2 linked regions of the Homo sapiens genome follow. The protein of the gene in region 2 interacts with the protein of the main gene of each other region in a pairwise test. Each region holds a gene or a part of one and is shown on either strand. Other genes may lie near its edges.

What was found. Proteins that work in one complex are often made in the same cells at the same time.
Region 1: the proteins of PFDN4 (region 2) and RFPL3 interact in binary tests that used the Homo sapiens proteins (3 or more experiments, as listed by UniProt).

The regions. Positions count from the first base shown.
Region 1 is NC_000022.11:32,353,693-32,360,881, reverse strand, and holds the start of RFPL3 (ret finger protein-like 3), read right to left. Parts: upstream 3,016-7,189; 5' UTR 2,811-3,015; coding exon 2,438-2,810; intron 977-2,437; exon of another isoform or gene 631-976; coding exon 50-630; 3' UTR 1-49.
Region 2 is NC_000020.11:54,211,075-54,218,098, forward strand, and holds part of PFDN4 (prefoldin subunit 4), read left to right. Parts: intron 1-3,276; coding exon 3,277-3,384; intron 3,385-4,223; coding exon of another isoform or gene 4,224-4,225; coding exon 4,226-4,366; intron 4,367-7,024. UniProt on the Homo sapiens protein: Binds specifically to cytosolic chaperonin (c-CPN) and transfers target proteins to it. Binds to nascent polypeptide chain and promotes folding in an environment in which there are many competing pathways for nonnative proteins.

The DNA of each region.
Region 1 (7,189 bases), on a different chromosome or scaffold from region 2:
CTACCCACCCAAGTAATTTTCTGACCCTGTTTTTTTTTGCAGTGGCGGCTTATTTGGCCTCCCCAGGACGGACTGGAGCATCAGTAGTGCCTGAGTTCATCAAAGGACAGATGCTCAAGACACCTTGATCACCATTAGGTGGAATTGAAGGAGCCAAAAATGGGCGCAGTGGCTCCTCAGCAGAGACGCTCCTGAATGTATAGACATGGGAACCACTTTCAGCATCAAAAAAGGAAACGTTCTGCATGCCCATATCCAGAAAAATCCCCACTCGCTGTAACTTGCGGTCTACTAAGAGGAAAGTCAGCGGCACCGTGCTGGCAGAGAGGCGGCTTCCATCCCTCAAACTCACAGTCCAGAATCCAAGCTCTGTGGTCAGCTGGATCTTCCCTTTGCAGTGAACAGATTCTCTGCAGACTCCCAGGTCCCATTCTGTGCTTGTTCCCACGTCCACCTCCCAGTAGTGGCGGCCACAGGTAAAGCGAGGGGAGCCCAGGATGCAAACGGACACGTCAAATCTCTCGGCAAGGTCTTGCCGATTCTGTGTGATGAGCCCACTTCGGACGCTCCTGAGGTCGTCAGAAATGAGGAGGAAGTTGTTGGCTGTGTCGGCATCCAAGGTCATATCCACTGTGAAAAGGAAAACAAGTTGCTCAGCAAGTGGACAGAAGCCAACCCCATGCCTCTCTTCTACTTCAAAGGCCCAAATATCTCCTGACTTTAGTTTCTTTAATTCTGTTTCTTCCTCCAAAATCAAAACTTTTCATGAGGAAACTTCCCTATTTCAAATTTTCATAGGTATGCTTTGTGGCAATACGTGACTCTTATTCACAGTAGCAATTCTTATTTTACTTTACGTCACGTGTTTGCTTCACTGAACTTTTCTTCATTTAGAGTGGAGGGTCTCTGAAGGCAGACACCATGCCCCCCTTTCTACCACCTTGATGTGTGAACAAATAAATGATAATTAAGACAATGCAAGTGGTCAATATTAAATATGTTTCTGCTTCCACATTTTATTGCTCCAATTCAGTATATAGAGCATGATTCCAGGCTTTTGTTTTCCATGTTTGTAAACAAATTAATTGTGCACAGTTCTGACAGCAGATAGGGTATCTCTGCAGCTGACAATGTGATGACAGAGATGCTGGTCCTGGACATTAGGAGGCTCTAAGGCCAGGTGGAGGAGGGGGACCTTTTAGATGAAAGAATGTTTTCTATCCTACATGGAAGGTGAGACCTTAAGCAAAACAATGGTAAATTTTGGAGCCAAGAGAAAGGTATTTGAAAGTTGTCTGTCATAACTGACTGATTGTAGAGAATAAGGGCAGAAAATACAAAGGTCAATAATTTAAGGCATTGGGTATGTGACTGACAGGTGAAGCCGCCAATTCTCATGGAGGAGGCAGTGTGATCTGGCCTAGAGAAAATTAATTGTCCAGAACATTCTGAAAAAAAAAAATCTACAAAATATATTATCCTTCAAGTCAAAAAACTGATATGATCACTAATATAGATTTTATAGATCACAGTAAGACTACCCTAGTCAAGACTAGGGATTGATTGCTATTTAATGGTGAATTAGGGAATGGACATGGACAAGGAAGGAGGAAGAGGGTTCCAAACATGACTTGGACAGGGTGAATCTCTGTCCTCCATAGTTCAGCAGAGAGACAGTCAGGTATGGGTAGATGGATGAGTAGAGATCATGGGTGTCAGGGCAGAAGCTACCAGTGTCAGGGACATTATAGGGGCCCACCACCATTTATAGGTGTAATTCTTTGCCCAGGCTGACCATAACCTTTTCATTTAAATGTCCCTTTTCCCCAGAGTTATGGAGAGTGATAGTATTTTCTGTAGCCAGGACCACTGTTGGAGCCCATGGCGCATGGATGAGGAGACCAATATCTGCAACTCTCCCCACTCACAGAAACAAACACCATAGGTGCTCCATTCCCAACTCTTCTCAACCCTGGGGTGAGGTTGTTTGGTACAATGGGTGCCAATATTCACTGTGCATTAGAAATACCAGGCCCATCTTAATGTCAGATTCATGGGAACCTTTGCTAGAGAGAAATTCAAATTCAGTTGCTCTATGTTTTTGCTACTCAGCAAAGTCCCCAAGCCAGCGGGATCAATCCTGAGACTTCCCAGTTCAGCATCTGCATTTTAACAAGATCCCCAGGTAATCTGAGCACACTAAGTTTAGAGAATCCCTTGTCTAACCCATGACATAGACATCGGGTTTTTGTTTGTTTTTGTTTTTGACATCACCAGGTGATTCTATGTGTTGTCAGGGCTGAGAATGTGATGATGAAGCATCTCAATTTTAGGTGCCAGACAGCAGCTAATCCCCATGTGGAATGAGGGGCCAACTGCACAGATGATTTTTCCTGGTCTGGTCTTGGGAAGGGGGCAGGGTATACAGATTCCTTACCTTGGAACTTCCGCATCCTTGGGTTCATCTGTAGAATCTTCTTCAGCTTGGGCTCCAGTTCCTTGATGTGGGAAACCAGCCTCTCTAGCTGCCGATTGGGCCTGATTTTGTTCCTCTGAGAGACCATGGAACAGCAACAGCAAAGCAGATCCTCCCCATGGGGCTCCTTCTGCAGCGAATTGATGCACTTGAGGCAGACGGTGCATCCACACTCCAGGGACATTGGTTTTTCCAGATAGTCTGAGCAGACGGGACAGCTGCTTGCTTCTTGGAAGAGTGCAGCCATGTCCACTGCCAGGGGAAAAGTACACAAGGGAAGAAAATTTCCTTGAGGTGAAAGCCTGTTAGTTGTGACAAGTGACAACCTTTTCATGCATAGAGGTATTGTGTTCCAGCTTTGTCACTCCGAGAACAAGACCATGAGTACAAACACTCAAGCACATCCCCCCACCCCCCGTCCTCAGAGATTTGAAGTTCTATTGGGAAAGTCACGAATCATCACTGTGCTCTGAGCTGAGGTGGAGGAAGGGTCCATTCTCCTGGTGACCCAGCAGCTGAGCCTGAGCCAGTGACGTGGCAGCACCCATGTGAGGAACAGCGAGCTGGGGTCATTTCACCACCTCCTAGGGGAACCCCAGCAAGAGACTGATTGATGAACATAAGAATTAGGAGCTGAGAGGCTGGGCACGATGGCTCATGCCTGTAATCCCAGCACTTCGGGAGGCCAAGGTGGGTGGATCATCTGAGGTCATCAAAAGTTCGAGACCAGCCTGATGGGTGAAACCCCATCTCTACTGAAAATACAAAAGAATTAGCCAGGCGTGGTGGCACACGCCTGTAATCCCAGATACTTGGGAGGCTTTGGCAGGAGAATCGCTTGAACCTGGGAGGCAGAAGTTGCACTGAGCCAAGATTGTGCCATTGCACTCCGGCCTGGGCAACAGAGTGAGACACCATCTCAAAAAAAAAAAAGGGGGCTGGATGCAGTAGCTCACATCTGTAATCCCAGCACTTTGCGAGGCCAAGGCAGGAAGATCCCTTGAGCCCAGGAATTTGAGACGAGTCTGGACAACACAGGAAGACCTCATCTCTACAAACAATACAAAAATTAGCAGTGAGCAGAGACCACGCCAGGTCACTCCAACCTGGACAACACAGTAAGACCCTGTCTCACCAAAAGAAAAGAAAAGAAAAAAAATTACATCCTTCTCCAGCCTTGGAAATGAATACCAAATTAACTGCCACCACTGGTGGGCAGGGGACAGGCTCGGAGGTTCCCTGAATGACAGAGAGTTGTTTTAGGAACCTCATGTCACACCCTTCTGAGACACTGTGGACCATGTCTGAGGGGTCCTACACTGGCACTGAGGGGGCCTGACCCCTCTTCATACACTGAGGTCAGGGGGCTCCCAGGTACACAACAGGATGCTGACCTCCTGCCGCTCGCCCACCCACAGGCCAGCCCAAGGCCACCCCCTTGGTCACTCTGTTCCCGTCCTCCTCTGAGGAGCTCCAAGCCAAAAGGCCACACTGCTGTGTCTCATGAGTGGCTTCTACCCGGGAGCTGTGACGGTGGCCTGGAAGGCAAACAGCACCCCTGTCACCCAGGGTACGGAAGTCACCAAGACCTCCAAACAGAGCAACAAGCACACAGCCAGAAGCGACCTGAGCCTGACACCCGACCAGTGGAGGTCCTGCAGCAGCTACAGCTGTAAGGTCACACACAAGAGAGCACTGTGGAGAAGACAGTGGCCCCTGAAGAATGTTCTTAGGTCCCTGACCCTCACCCCACCCATGGGGGCCTGGAGCTGCAGGATCCCAGAACAGAGATCCCCTCCCACCCCAAATCATCCAGCCCCTCTCCTTGTACCAGTAAACCCTTAATAAATATCCTCACCGTCAACCAGAAATCCTGCTCCCTCTCTTCATTTCTTAGCTAACATATAATTTGACACTCACCCTGGGTTCTTAGTGTGTGTAAGGGGGGATTACTTGCACCCTGTTGGATAGCAGCCCGGGGGAGAGGCTCCCAGACTCCCAGGGGTGTCTCCTGAGGAAACAGGCCAGGCCAGGCATTTGATCACTGAACACCTCTCTCTCCATTCTCTCTCCCCACCTCTTCCTCCTTGCAGCTTGGCCCCCAATTGCTGACTACTTCCTGGATGAAGCTGTCCCTAGCTGAGCCTTAAGACGCACCCTCTGTCCCTACCCTAGTCAAGACCCTCTACCCACCCACAGCCTCTGTTTCTTTAGCCTTGAAATCCTACTCTGGGCCTGGAGCTCCCTGGCCCCTGGAATGCCCTCTTTTCTCTCTGCCCAGCTCCCCAGCCCTGAGAGCCAGGCTGTCCAGGACACTGTTGCATCGTCAAATTCATGAGGTCTTACATTTGGGGCCCGCCTCAATTCTTCACCTTACAGCAGGTTCAGAGATGGAAAAAAAAATGGGAGGAAGCCAGGAAGGAAACACACACAAAAGGCCAGCAGGTGGCTCAGGATGCTTGTGAAAGGTAGTATCCCAGCTGTGCAGGAAGCAGTGCAAGGAGGGTAATAGGTGTTCCCTTATTTCTATGAGAATATGCAAAGCATTTGCTCAAGGAGAGTTGGTTTTCTCAGTGTTGAAGCCAGCCATCTTTTCTTTTCTTTCTTTTTTTTTTTTTTTTTTTGAGACAAAGTCTCGCTGTGTCACCAGGCTGGAGTGTAGTGGCACAATCTTGGCTCACTGCAACCTCTGCCTCCCAGGTTCAAGCGATTCTCCTGCCAAAGCCAGGCATCTTTTCACGACTAAAAGCAAGTACCTGTCTTAACCAAGGCCTCAATATTGATGGGATTTGGTCTCTGACACATGCACAGGTGACCTGTGCACCTAGGGCTGCCTGGCAGCTCTAGGAAATGGCAATTCTGTCAGGTACTTGGCACAGAAAGTCACTGGCCTTCTTTGGAGGATGCATCATTTATGGAAACACTTCTTTATTGGATCCTGGGTCTCGGGTGGAAAACCAGGTCCCACATCAGGACTTTCTCTGTGAGGCTCCCAGGTTCTGGGGCTCCAGCTGCTGTCTGAGAGGAAGGTGTGGAGACAGAGAACATAGCCTAGAAGAGCCTGGAACTGAGACTTCCCCTTACCGAGGTTATGCAAATGAGGTTCTTGGACTACATATTCTGATTGGATGAGAAGAAAAACCTCTAGATCTACTCTGATTGGGCTTTATTTGCATGTTCTGATTGGATGAGAGCAAGTCTTAGGACAACCAATCAGAACATGATAACAAAGTCCAATCAGAGTAGGCCTAGAGGTTTTCCTCATCCAATCAGAACATGTAGCCCAGGAACTTCATTTGCATAAATTCTCATATATAAATGATGCCAAGTGGGGGGAGTTTTGTCATTCCAAGCTCTCCTGCGTCAGCTTGTGTAGCTGGTTAGTACTGGCTTAGAGGAAAAAGAAAACGAGTCACTTCCTGAGCACACTGGAGTCTGGAAGCTTAGAGGAAAAGGAGGAGGAGCAACTTCATTAGCACAGTGGAGGCTGGAGCCTGCCGTGGCTCACCTCGCTGCTGCCGTTGGTGCGGGCCAGGGAGACTAGAGCGCAGCCAGAATGGTAAAATGGTGGTGGGAAAAGTTCGCCATCCCAGGCCGTACTGCCTGTGGCGTGGCGTGGTGGGGTGGGTTGGAGGCCCTATCCAGGGCGTTACTGCCCGTGTTAGGAGGCTGGTTGGATGTGGTATCTGGGGCCTCACTGCCCACAGAGGGGAGTGGGTTGGGGGTGCTATCGGGTGTGCGCTGCCCGTGGCTGGGGGTGGGTTGGAGCACTATCCCAAGCTGTACTGCTAGCGGCAGTGGGGAGTTCTGGGGGCACTATCTGGGGATGCAGTGGCCGTGGCCGGCGGGCGAGTTGGAAGAACTATCGGGTGTTGCATTGCCCTTGTCAGGCACGGGTTGGGGGCGCTATCGGGTGCTACTCTGCCTGCGGTGGGCGGGACGTGTTATATCCAGGGCATCATTGCCTGCGTCTAGAAGCTGGCTGGGGGCATTATCCATAGCTGCACTGCCCACAGCAGGGAGCAGGTTGGCAGCACTATCTGGGGCTGCAGTGCTGTGGTGGGGGACGGGTTAGGCTCATTACAGGGTGCTACACTGTTGGCAGCAGGGAGGGGGGTGTTGAGGGCGCTTTCTGGGGCCTACACTGAGACAGAGATAGCAGGATTTATTGGGAGTGCTACTGGGGGCCAGACTGCCCGTGTAGAGGGGGTGGGAGGCTGGTTGGGGGCGCTATTGAGGGACGTATCCACTGCCCGTTTTGGGAGGGGGCGGGTTGGGTGCTATCAGAGGTCTGTACTGCGTGCCAGGGAGCTGGTGGGTGTGCTACCTGGGGCCACATTGGTTCCGGCGGGGCGGGTTGGGTGCGCTATCGGGGGCTACCTTGCCCGCGCAGGGGGTGGGTTGGGTGCGCTATCTGTGGCTGTACTGCCGGAGGCAGGGAGTGAGTTGGGGCGTCTCCCTGGGTTGCTGCTCCCAGTGGGGAGCAGGTTGGGGCACTATCCGGGGTTGCACTTCCCGCAGTTGGGGGGCGGTTTGGGTGCCATATCAGGGCATTACTGCCCCCAGCAGGGGTCTGGTTGGGGGCACTATTCGTGGCTACACTGTGTACGGCAGGGAGCGGATTGGGGGCGCTATCCCGGGCTGCACTGCCCGCGGCAGGGGGCGGGTTCTGGGCGCCATTGGGTGCTGCAGTGTCCGAAGCAAGGGCAGGTT
Region 2 (7,024 bases):
CTCGTCTCAAAAACAAAAAAACAAACAAAGAAGGTTGAATACAAATACAAAGCAAAAGTTTACATCATACAGACTTGGTAGATATGTTTTTAAAAGTAAAAATAAAAGACTGAAATTGGCCAGAATTTATTTCTAGGGACCCAGCTGTCAGTGCAGACTCCGTGTAATACCTAGACTTGGTGTGAGGCATGACTGAGTATGGTTCAGTTTCCTCCTCTAATCCCGTAAGATATTAGTTCTCAAGAAAAGAGCCCAGGGAATTTTAATTTTTACTTTGGATCCCGAGCAGGCATATTTCTCTTTGGCCTAGCAGAATTTCTTTCTAGATCTGGATCTGTTCTTTGTAATGATTTTTGATAAACAATATTCAGGATGTAAAATGCTTAGCTATCATTTGACTGACTCCATCATCAGGCTTTCTCCTACATGTTCATTTTATCAACCCTATAAGGTAGGAACTAGCCTCTCCATTTTACAGATGAGAAACCTGAGGTGGTTCCAAAGAATTGGGTAATTTGCCCAAGGTTCCTGTTTGCTTGGATTGGATTGCAGCCTGACTCTTCCCACCACTCTGTGTGCTGCCTCAGATACTATAGGATATGAGTTCTTCCTAGAGTTCTTCTGACTTTGAGAGTAGCTACAGCTGGTTTCCCTGAAGGCAGGAGTTCCTAACCTTTTGGGGTTGTGGATCCCTTTGAGAATCTGGTGAAAGCTATGAAGACCTTCCAGAAGGATGCACATACTATACATGCCATTTTGCATACAGTCTCTGGGTATATCGACCTGTCAATGTCCATTGACCACCCCCACCCCCCAGTTAAGAATTACCCACTTCTGGCTGGGCGTGGTGGCTCAAGCCTGTAATCCCAGCACTTTGGGAGGCCGAGGCTGGTGGATCACCTGAGGTTAGGAGTTCAAGACCAGCCTGGCCAACATGGTGAAACCCCTTCTCTACTAAAAATACGAAAATTAGCCGGACATGGTGGCATGTGCATGTAATCTCAGCTACTTGGGAGGCTGAGGCAGGAGAATGGCTTGAACCCGGGAAGTGGAGGTTGCAGTGAGCCAAGATCATGCTACTGCACTTCAGCCTGGGCGACAGAGTGAGACTCTGTCTCACCAAAAAAAAAAAAAAATTACCCACTTCTTGCCAAAATGCAGCTTCAAGAAATGTAGGAATGTTCTAGGACAGTGAGACTAAAACAGAAGCCTCTGTTAGCCATCAAAGGCACTGACATCTTACTGTCTGCTGTAAATGGCACTCCACTGGGCGGCATGCAGTATATTTGACTCACACATCAACTTTAGCCCTTAACCCCAGTGGGAAAACCACTGTAAAGATCTGGATACCAGGGGCCACATGTGTGCTGATGCCTGTGGTTTGGTGGGGCTACAACAGGAAATTCCTGCTTTGGAAAGACAGAAAGCAGATAGCCAAATTCTCTCTACCACATTTTGGAAACTATGTGTTTGAGTCTGATCAAGCATGATTTAGATTCAAATTCAGAAACCATGTATTAGCCTTAGTTATGTGCCAGGCAGTCCTGCACTGGATCCGTTCATGTGAATGGCTCTGTTGAGCCCTCACCAAGACAAATACATCTATAAATGCCTGTTGGGGGTTCAATATTTAAACAAAATGGCATATACTCTTCAGGCAAACAGGAACTCTTCAGAATTCTCTGCTGTCTATTTGCGTAGGGAATTGACAGTTCTCACTTAGGCAAAATGACTTGTGTGCCAAGATATAGACTTTGGTTTCTTGAGCGTAGCTCAGTGTTCCCCAACTTCCATATTCATCAAAATTATGCATACGGTTGAACACTCAAAGCTAGACATAGTGTGATGTAAAGGATTTTTTCAGGCTATCTTCTGGGTTGTTGAGGTGGGGCATAATGCATGTGAAATTGTTTCTTGGAATGAGAGCCTAACAAAGGGGAGGACTGTGTTATATTCCGACCACTGAGCTCTGTATTGCTTGACACTGCCTTTCAACCTCTGAGAAATAAAAGTTCACATACCTTAAGTCGATGGTCATGAGAGACCAGGTCAGGGATGGAGTGTGAATGTTGTGAGCTCATTACTGTTACTGCAAAAGAGCCAAAAGTAGTGTTTCAGTATGAACTATTTTTATACACACACAAATATCTTTTCTTCTTTAAACTAGAATCAGGTGCTCTGGTTTTCATTTTATAAATGGAAGGGAAACCCTAAGGAGAGTCTGGTTTTATGTTTTAGCTTTATTTTTTAAAAATATATGGTACCTCCTTGAGAATCTGATGAAAGCAGACATCCTGCTGCCTCTTCCAGATGTGCCTAAGCCTGTGTACACACTCACACACACACGTGCACACTCACAGAGACGCACGTTCACATTCAGTTACCGAGAACTCATGGACCTGTCTGACCTCTGAAGCCAGTCTGCCTGGGTTGAAATCAAGTTCCACCACCTACTGGCTCTGTGGCTTTGGCCATATTATATAAAGTGTACCTCAGTTTCTCAATCTGTAAAATAGTGCTGGTGATCCTCCCTAATAAGATGGATTGCAGGATTAGCAGAGATAATAAAGTACTTAGGAAGTTTTGGCACATAGTAAATTCAATCAGTGTTAGCTATTTTTTTATTATTTCATTGGTACTTTATGTTATCCAAGTACTCTTTATTTGCAAATTTGTAAATTTAATCACATTAAATATTAATTTTTAAATACTAAACATTCAATTTTCATCATTTTTTAGTAAAGTAGACCTTATTAAGACATTTAAACAGGTCCTACATTATAAACATAATTTTTGCTGTGAATGGAATAGAGCCACTGAAATGTACAGTGACCCTTTAGCCAGTAAGCTCATGCAAGTTTTAGCTCTAAGAAAAAAAAAACACTACTCTGAGACATTTACCAATATATTTGACCATGTAACTTTTTGTTTCCTGGGTCATCTTAATGAAAGAATGCTCCAACTTGAGAAATTCTGCTCTGTGCCAAAAGTTGGCTTTTTTTCTTTCCTTTTAAAAGGACTTATTAATTGTTCTTTATGTTTGCAATATGTTTATAGCTTAGGAATTATTTTATGGAGTATCAGAAAAGGTTATAGATTTACAAACAAACCTTAAGCTTGTGGAGCAAAAAATAAGGCATTTGTTATGTTCTGTACTTCTTGTGATTCTTGACTATATGAGTGCAAATGGCTTATTGAGTTATTGTTGAGAAATATAAAAAGCTAACTGATAACTTCTCCGTTAAAATTTTACAAAAACTTAAACACTTCTTTCAGGCTGCAGAAGATGTCAATGTTACTTTCGAAGATCAACAAAAGATAAACAAATTTGCACGGAATACAAGTAGAATCACAGAGCTGAAGGAAGAAATAGAAGTAAAAAAGGTATTGAAAATAATTATTAGAAGAATAAAATTTTTTTATACTATAGCTACTAAAACTGAACTCAGTTAACAAGTGAATATATATTTCTCTGGGCTGTTTGTTGCAGATGAATGACGCGATCCACTCTAGTTAAGCAGAAAGTCATTTTTTTTTTAAGGGATATGCGATAACTTACAGAGTTGTTGAGGAGCTTGAGTCTAGACCGAGGTTCCAGGAACAAGTCTCGGAGAACTTGGCTGGCGGTGGAACAGCTGTTGCCTCCACTGATCCCAGAGTCAGCTGTCTTCCCAATGAGGAAGCCACCCTTGCAGACTTAGGAACACCAAGCTGCTGCTGCCAGTGCCACCTACCCCAGTAAATCTGGGGCCTGTGTCCAGCCGTCCCCCTTGAGTTGAAATCCAGCTCAAATGCATTTGATTGGTGGAATTGAAGTTATTATCACTTATGCATGCTGGCAGAACTTTCATTACCCGCATGATTTACTTACACCCTATCAGCAAGCAAGGCTGAGAAATGTAGGCTGGTTTTTTTGGTTTTGTTTTTGTAGGAAGGCAGAATTCACAAAGTCAAAAATTGTTAAAATAGAAGAAATTTTGAGTGACCATGTGCCTGCTGTCCACCACAGGGCGCTTATTGTCCAGAGGACAAAGCTTTAGGTAGCTCTAAGTGCTTGCTTGTGAAATGTCTTCTAAAAAGTTACAAATTAAGGTCTTATTCTAATGTGGTAATAATACCTTTGTGAGAGGGTCCCTCAGAGAGTTGCTGTCCCCAAATTACAATTGGCCTTTAGCTTCTATCAGAGAACTTTGAGTACATTTTCTTTGCCATTTTGCATTTATAGAAACAACTCCAAAACCTAGAAGATGCTTGTGATGACATCATGCTTGCAGATGATGATTGCTTAATGATACCTTATCAAATTGGTGATGTCTTCATTAGCCATTCTCAAGAAGAAACGCAAGAAATGTTAGAAGAAGCAAAGGTATGTTAAAGGTTAATTCTGAAATTAGAATTTATATCACTATAAAGAACATGTAATTATAGATGTAGGGAAATAGTAGATGCTAGCTATAGCTAATATTTACTGCCTTGTTATGTCCCAGGCATGCTCCGAATGCTTTGCCAGCAGGATTTTGTTGAATCATAACGATGACCTGTTATCCCAATTTAGGGACAAAGAATAGAGGCTTAGAGAGGTTATGGGATTTATTCAAAGTGACACATAGACAGTGGTCTTCTGACTCCAGAACCTTGCTCAAAACTAAAAGTATTTAGAAGGTATAGCATATATTGAAGCAGAAAAGAAAAATCCCCTGTAATTCTGCTATGCAGAGGTAACCATTCATAGTGAACATTTTCCTGTATTTCTTTTATGTTCTCTCTGCCTCTCTCCGTGTAGTTTGCTTCCCAGTTGGGACAATTAATGTTCCAGGAGGAGCATTTTTGCTGGTTTCATTGAATGTTTGTTTGTCCAGCAGATACTCATTGGAAGCCTGCTCTGAGCCTGGCACACAGGCCTTTAAAAACATCGTTTTTGAAGACTGTTTAATATCATGTTGATGGTTATCAATTGGGGTCACGGGTCTTATTGTTAGCATTAATTTGTTTCCAATATTTTGCTGTACTAATGTTACTGTGAGCATTCTTCTACATAAATCTTTGTTCACATTTAGAAAATTGTTTTGAGGAAATAATTAGAGAAATATAATTACTGGGTCAGTCAGCATATGAGTTCTCTGATAATATCTGAGACATTTGATACATGGTATGAAATTTTCAGTTCACATGCCTTCTTACTATTTGGGAGGGACAGCCACGTTGTTTGTCTATGAGAAGCAGATGGCAATTAAACCTTTCCTAATGCTTTTGCTAATTAACCTGATTGCTTAAAATGATAGTCTCTCTTCAAATGTCATAAAAAGCAAAACTTCGTATGAATGAAACCCACATTTAGTAAGTCTTCAGAAGAACTATCACTCCTGGGTCTTTCCATGCATAAATCTTATATGTCTCCCTTATGTTTAAATCTTTTCTTCTTGGTCAAATTTTGTGATTTTTGTTCTTTTTATTTGTTTAACCATTTAAAAAACATTTTTATTGGAAGTATTCCCAGATAGCTTATGGTTTTTGTGGCTATTGTGAATCCCCTGCCCCATACACAGATAGCTACTGAACTTTTATTTTATTTTATTTATTTATTTATTTATTTATTTTTTGAGATGGAGTCTTGCCCTGTCGCCCAGGCTGGAGTGCAATGGCGCAATCTCGGCTCACTGCAACGTCTGCCTCCTGGGTTCAAACAATTCTCCTGCCTCAGCCTCCCGAGTAGCTGGGATTACAGGCGCCCACCACCACGCCCAGCTAATTTTTGTACTTTTGGTAGAGACAGGGTTTCACCATGTTGGGCAGACTGGTCTCGAACTCCTGACCTCGTGCTCGTGATCCACCCGCCTCAGCCTCCCAAAGTGCTGGGATTACAGGCGTGAGCCACCACACCCGGCTGAACCTTTCTTTTTTTACTCATTCTAGAATTCTAGAATGAATGGAGTGCTTACTCTGTATCAGGTTCTGCCATGTACTAGGGATAATTGGGGACAACAAAACCTGCCTGGCCCCTGCCTGCATGGAGCATATAGTCTAGATGGAAAGAAAAAAAAGTAAACAAAACTGATAATGAGTAGAAAGTGATATGAGGATAGAGGTGGCTTTAAGAACACAGGAAGAGGAATCTACACTAGTCTGGACATCAAGGGTCAGGGAAGGGCTCCCAGGGAAAGTGATGGGATAACAGCTGAGGAATAAGTGGCTATTAGCCAGAAAGGGGCGGCGGGGGGCGGGGGGTTCTAGTCGTGAGAAGCAACATGTGTGAACGGCCATAGGATGACGGTGGTGCAAACATAGACCTGCAAGAAGATGTATTTGCTGGAGATTGGGAGCACCTGAAATTGTGGCCACATCTTGGAGAACTCCAGTCAGTTGAGTTGAAGAAATTGTACTTTGTCTTAGCAGGGGTCAGCAAACTTTCTGTGAAGGGCCAGAAGTAAATACGTTAGGTTTTGTGGGCTGCACAGCCTCTGCCATAATTACTATGAAAGCAAGATGAGTGAATCTGCGTGGCTGTCTTCCAATAAAACTTGACAAAAACAAGCTTCAGGCTAGATTGGGCCTGTGGGCTATAGTTTGCCCACTCCCGTCCCAGAGCAAAGAGGAGCCTTCAGAGATTTTTGGAAAAGAGAGAGATGATTGGACTTGCGATATTAAAATGACTTTCTAGTGTCTTATTTTACTTATTAACCAGGTTTTCTCGGTATAGAAATTTAGAATTTATCCCTTTCTAGTAGCCATATGTCTTATTTTTGTTTCTTGTTTTGTAACAGTGATTCTCAAACTTAGCATGCGTGAGAATCACAGTCACCACAGGGCTTGTTAAAAATCCAGGTTGCTGGGCCCGACCCAAAGACGATCTTTCAGGTGGGCTGAGGTAGGGCCCCAGAATGTGTATTTCTAACAAGTTCCCAGGTGATTTTGTCCCTGACACTGGTCTCGGGGCCACCGTTTGAGAACCATTGGCTAGATTTCTAAAACGGCAACACTGTCAGTATTAGATATTCTTTGGTTTCTAATGTTAGTGGGTATTTGG